Regions from separate parts of the Homo sapiens genome. Here region 2 is linked to region 1. A link means that fine-mapping ties the variant in region 1 to the expression of a gene that starts in the linked region. Tissue or cell type: whole blood. Region 1 holds a variant in brackets; the other region holds the start of a gene. All regions are shown on one strand. Distances are from middle to middle. Region 1 overlaps ATP1B1 (ATPase Na+/K+ transporting subunit beta 1). Region 2 holds the start of ATP1B1 (ATPase Na+/K+ transporting subunit beta 1).

Region 1 (2,910 bases):
TGCCACGTCAAGGATGTGTGTGAGCTCCTCTGCCTGCACAGGCTTTGCGAAAGGTTTCCGTTTCAGAAATACAATGCCCTGATTTTAGTGTGGGCATTTCCCATGTTAGTTAAGTGATACTAAATCTTTAATAATTATAGCTGGAAAATGTTTTTTGGAAAGCTTTTTTATCTTCTTTCACACTAAGGCTAATTTTTAAATACAGCTAAATAAGGACTTAGGCCAATCCCTGAACCAAAAAGCAAGGTATGAACCTTAATTTACTGAACCACAAACCTAACCTCATTTTTTAAAAACTGAAGTGCTAACAACTTTTTTTTTTAACACATATGTCTAGTGAAGCAATAGCAGGAACCAACACTTCATGTTTTCTAAACTGAGTGAAGTAGCAGTAGCACTGCAAGATGATTTTTTTAAATGGAACTTCAAACTGGAGCTTCATCGATTCTCTGCCTCTGATTGATTGATTAACTTTTAGTGTCTTTGGGAAGGGGTATGCCAGTGTCTGAAGTCCTGACCAACCTCTTGGACTCTGTTAAGTGGAAAAGACCAAAATTTGTCTGAACTAAGAAATTATGTGTTTCTCCGTTTCAGGTTCAATACTTCTTCAAGATCTTGGATAATTAGTGGTGTGGAAAGTAAAGAAGTCACAGGTTGGGACATTTAGACAAGAGTGAATCACACACGAGGAATGTGTTCATTCTTTTATTGTCCGTTGTTTTAACCTGACTGAATACAAGATCAACAAGAGCACTGTACTCCTGGCAATTATTACATATGTTAGAACATGGATTTTGCACTGTAGACAACATTTAACACCAGTCTATGGGGTACTGCATTGCTTTTTATAAAGTTCAAAATAAAGATTTATTTTCAAACAAGTGACTTTGGTTTATTTCATACATTACACTTTTTCTTGCAGAAAAAAATAAAATTGTACAACTGCATAAATATAAAATTCTTCCACCATGAAAATGGTTAAAACATTCATAAAGACACAGCACCAGCATGTGATGCCTCCAGAAAGGAAAAAAGGAAAGTAAAAGAAAATGTATAAAGCAAATTAATTAGCCCTGTCACTAGCCAAAGTGATGGGCAGATCCAGATCTCAGACACAGCTTTAGAACATACCGGAGGACAAGGCAAGAGATGTCAAGACAGCATTCAATACAAGCATAACACAACCCATCACCTTTTTGTGTTTTTCTGTAGTGTCACTTAAAATTTAAAGGGCAGTTCCCCCATGACAAACCCCCACCCCAGCCCCCAGGAAAAAAATAAAAATAAAGACCTAACACCACAGGAAAAGACTATGGAGTATGTTAAAAATGCTCATCGATGGGCCATTACCTTTGAAAGAGCCAAAAAACAAAAAAAAAA[A/CA]AAAAAAAAAAATTACCATGCCAGTTTTATTCCCGTTGAATATTTACACCTTGGACAGCAAACCTTGCTCACATAAAGTAGAAAACAGATACAATAAAACATGGCTTGAAAAATGACCAGAGTATGCACCTGTAGTACTGTACACTAAATAAAATACACAAGGCAGCAATACTTAGGGGCCAGAAACACTGCTTACTACAAGTCAGTTACGGAATCATAATTTACAGTAAAAATGGGCACGTCCCAAGGCTCAATTTTTCTTTTTCTTTTGTCATTTACAGTAGAATAAATATTTTGTTGCTATTGCTACACTTTAATTTACATTCTAACCTATTAAATGCAGAAAGCTAGTGTAAAGCATATAGATTAAGTGTAGGTCCCATACGTATGACAGTTTGTTCAAGACTAGTAGGTTTTTGTTTTTGTATCTTTTTTTAACTTATTAAATGGCTAGTGGGAAAGATTTGTGCTTGTGATCAGCTCTTAACTTCAATTTTTACATCAAAACGTCCCTGAAAACGGTCTTTCTCACTGTACCCAATGTTCTCACCGTACGCCTTACACTCTATGCGAATTTCAGTGTCCATGGTAAGATTGGTGAACTGTACGGCCAGCAGGGGCTGCAGGTATTTGGGCTGCAGGAGTTTGCCATAGTACGGATAATACTGCAGAGGAAAACCAGGGGAGTTGCCCAGTCCAAAATACTCCACATTTCCAACTTTATCCTTATCTTCATCTCGCTGAAATCCAGAATGAAATGAAATTTTAATGGCTCACATCATGCATCACTATGTGTACTCAAAAACAAGACTCAATCTACACAGTAGTTTGCAAACTACTGAGAGAGGAAAGAACATCTACTCAGTCTATTCCATTGCAGCCTTGAGAAATGGTCATAAGAAGAGACTATTCTCAATGTGCAAATGGATGGGGAAGCTGAGTCAAATGCCAAATAAGCATTCTTCAAGCCTCCTAGAAACAAGGCCAACATTGAAAGGCAGAAACACCTTGCTGTTGGCCCAGTAAATAATCTGTCTAGTGATATTATCTCCAAAGTTTACTACTTGCCTCTCATTTTCTTGTTGAGAAATCAATCTCCACTTCCTTGCTTGGTGCTAGCACTGTCTGGGAACTCCCTTTCTTTGTTCTGCCTTTCTCTCTAAACGGTCCATTAGTTTTTGGATCCAAAGGAAACATGCACTAATTGTTACCTTAGTCTTTCAATTTTTTTTTTTTTTTTTTTTTTTTTTTTGAGATAGTCTTGCTCTGTCCCCAGGCTGGAGTGCAATGGCGTGATCTCAGCTCACTGCAACCTCCGCCTCCCAGGTCCAAGCGATTCTCCTGCCTCAGGTCCTCAGCTGGGATTACAGGCACGCGCCGCCACGCCCAGCTAATTTTTGTATGTGTAGTAGAGACAGGGTTTCACCATGTTGGCCAGGCTGGTCTCAAACTCTTGACCTCATTATCTGCCCATCTCGGCCTCCCAAAGTGCTAGGATTACAGGCGTGAGCCACTGCACCAGGCGATATT
Region 2 (2,910 bases), 25 kb after region 1:
TCCCAAGCAGGAACACCAATCGGCCTCTGTTCAGGACTCCCTGAATGACTGCAGTGGTGGTGCCAGTGGTGTTGGTGGTGATGGTCATGATGATGATGATGATGATGATGATGTTGGAGGAGGAGGGGGCAGTGATGCAGCAGGGGGAGTTCCCTCCCTCCTTCCCTCACGCAGTCACGACTCATAGATTCGCCTACAACTCTGCCCTTCAAAATGACCTTTTTTTTAAAAAAAAAAAAGTCACCTTTCCGGAGAGGCTGAAAACAAGAAATCTAATTTTCGATGGAAAAAAGTCTATCCAACCAAGCAACAGGCTGCACAAAATATTTTAAGATCAGCTGCTCTGCGTTTATATTCCCTTCACCATAATCAACCCAACCTACTGACTGATCCACAACTGTCTGTGTAGACCTTGAAAACAACCAGACTTTGCCAGGTTTCGGGCCAAAGCTAAGAATCGGAGTCCTGAAATGGAGCTTATTGAACCATTTCTGGGTGGTGATGACTCCAGGGGAGGTCATGGAGGGAAATCCTTAGCCATCGCTGTGAAATACTACAGTGTGGATGGATTCCTCTCCACCCTTCTCTTTCCTCTCTTTTGAGATACGTATTTAGACTAGAAGAAAGATGCTGTAACACACAACCTCGTCTGCATTAGATCCCATCACCTCACGAGGTTCTCTCAAGACCCCAGATCTCATTTTTTTTTTAAGGACTCAGGACACGGGAGAGACAAATGTAGTCTCGCAGAGCCTGACTATTCCCAGGAGTAAAAGGCTCAACCGATGCACGGTAGGAAAGACTGCAAATTACCAAGCCAAGATCGCTACGATATGCATAACCTTCCGCCTGTCGTGTTCCAGCCCCGACCCTGCGCCCCACTCTGGGGACACCGCATTCCGCACAGGACTGCAAGCCCAGGCCGGCGCGACCCAGCAGCGTCCACCACCCTCGCCCCCGCCACCCCGGCCAGCGCGGTGGGTGCGGAACCGGCCGCGGACCCTGCGCAGGGGATGCGCCGCCCGGGAAAGATCAGACGCGGCGGCCGGGAGCTGCGGACCCCGTACTTACACCAACTGCCACCGGTCCTGCCCAGAAACTCCTTCTTCTCTGAGTTCCAGATGAATTTCTTCCAGCTGCCCTCCTCCTTGGCTTTCCCGCGGGCCATGGCGATGGCGGGTCAGCAGCTGCCGCGGTCCGGAGGGTGGGTGGCTGCGGCGCGCGCCCTGGCGTCCTCTGCGCCGCTCGGCTTCTCCGGCCTGGCTCTCTGCAGGCAGGACGCGCCGCTGCCGCTGCGGCTCTCGGAGTGCGAGACGCGCGGCGGAGGAGCCAAGGCAGGAGCAGGAGGAGGGGGAGGCGGCGGCGGCGGCGGCGGCGGGGCGGGGGCGGAGGGAGGGACGGCGCAGGCTGCGCGGCTCCGAGCCCCGCACCTATTGGTGGGCGCGCAGCCGCTCGCGGGCTTTCTTTGGTCCGCCGAGCGCTCCTCTAGCCCTTGGGGGGTCGGGGGCTCCGCGAACCCGTAGCTGCCGCTCCCGCTGCCACTGGGGACGTGTGCTGGGCCCCCGCCTCCCCTGACCTCTGCAGAGACAGGCCCGGGGTAGGAGAGTCAGAGAGGGAAGGACGGACAAGCGGACTGCGGGGCGCCACCGGCACTCCCGCCAGGAGCCGAGGAATTGGCTGCGCCCGCCCTACCTTTACTATATACCGCGCCCCGGCGGCCGTGCGCCCCGCCCTCTAGCGGCCCGGTGGCCAATCGCCGGCGCCAGGGGCAGGGACTCGGCCCGAGAGGGCGGGTTCGGGGCCGGCACAAAGGAGCCGCCGGGGCTAGAGGGGCCGCTTGGATCGCTGGGCGCGGGGCGTTGGGCGCGGGGCGAGGAGGAGGCGGGGGCGGCGGTGAGGGACGCGCAGGCAGCGCCGCGCAGCCCCCTCCCAGCTCCCGGCTGGGCGTGAACCGCCCCTTCCGTGGCTGGGGGATCCGCACCTGGGTCGCCCGGAGCCTCGAGGACCCCAGCCCGGCAGTCCTGGCCCAGCCTCCACGCCTCTGCCTGCCCGCCCGCGCTTTCGGCCTCCCTGGGCTGTGGGTCCACCCCTCCTGGGCGCTGGCGGGGTGGGGGAAGGTCACTCCGGGACGCCGGACTGGCGAGGACTCTGCCCAGCTCCGCCCCGCCTCCCGCTCCTGCACCTGCCGCCCCCTCGCACTCCCCGCCACTGCGGTTGCAGTTCCGGCCCTTCCCTCTTCTTTGCAGGCCAGCCCAGCCGGCAGCCCCGGTTCCTGACTGCCCGGCTGTGCCCCTTGTGGGCGGCCTGAACCACCTCGAGCAGGACAATTGCCAAACCCACCCAGGGCGGTAGCCCGCAGTGAGTTGTCCCGTAGAAACCAATTGAGACTCAGGCCAGTCTAGACCCCAGGCAACAATATCTGCACGTGACCCAGCCACCGAGGACTTTCTTGGTGCCCGGTCGGCGGCGGGTATTCTCATTGGCATGCTTTTATGCCCCCTTGGGGGTATCGATCCCTTTGTTCTGCTGTAAAATTCTTGGAGCCAAAGGACCTTTGGGAAAACCTAGCGCATAGGGCAAGATGTTGCAGACCTGGGGCATAGAGTACCCCTTCCCACTCTTTGTCCGCTGTTGCTGGAAAGCCAAACTCTTGGTTTCATCCCTCTCCTATGAGCCCCCAAGCAGCTTTATACATCCCTCTGAGGACAGTGACACAGCAGAAAACACCGGGATGCTTCTGCTTCCACTGCAGAGAAGCCCTATCCCCAGGGGCCATCATGGCCCATCTTGACGTCCCAGCCCCATATCAGAGAATTCCCCAATACCAGGATGCTTGTCCTTATCCTGGCCACCCTTCTGTCCCCAAGGTCAACCTCGCTGGCATAAAGACAAGCCCGAACTGATTAAGAA

What was found.
Region 2: ATP1B1 starts here. The variant in region 1 is fine-mapped to the expression of ATP1B1 in whole blood (INTERVAL, PIP 0.92).

The regions. Positions count from the first base shown.
Region 1 is chr1:169,130,502-169,133,411 of GRCh38, reverse strand. It overlaps ATP1B1 (ATPase Na+/K+ transporting subunit beta 1), which reads right to left. Exons shown (of 6, transcript NM_001677.4): 6 at 693-2,120. The coding sequence ends at 1,857. NME7 (NME/NM23 family member 7) reads left to right here. Exons shown (of 12, transcript NM_013330.5): 12 at 595-881. The coding sequence ends at 627. Among named protein-coding and RNA genes, the nearest start is that of ATP1B1, 25 kb to the right of the region's middle. The variant A/CA (reference allele first, on the strand shown) is at 1,381.
Region 2 is chr1:169,105,088-169,107,997 of GRCh38, reverse strand. ATP1B1 (ATPase Na+/K+ transporting subunit beta 1) reads right to left here and starts at 1,308. Exons shown (of 6, transcript NM_001677.4): 1 at 1,072-1,308. The coding sequence starts at 1,168. RefSeq lists enhancers at 599-1,171, 1,172-1,744, 1,533-1,827, 2,318-2,891 and a silencer at 1,341-2,260.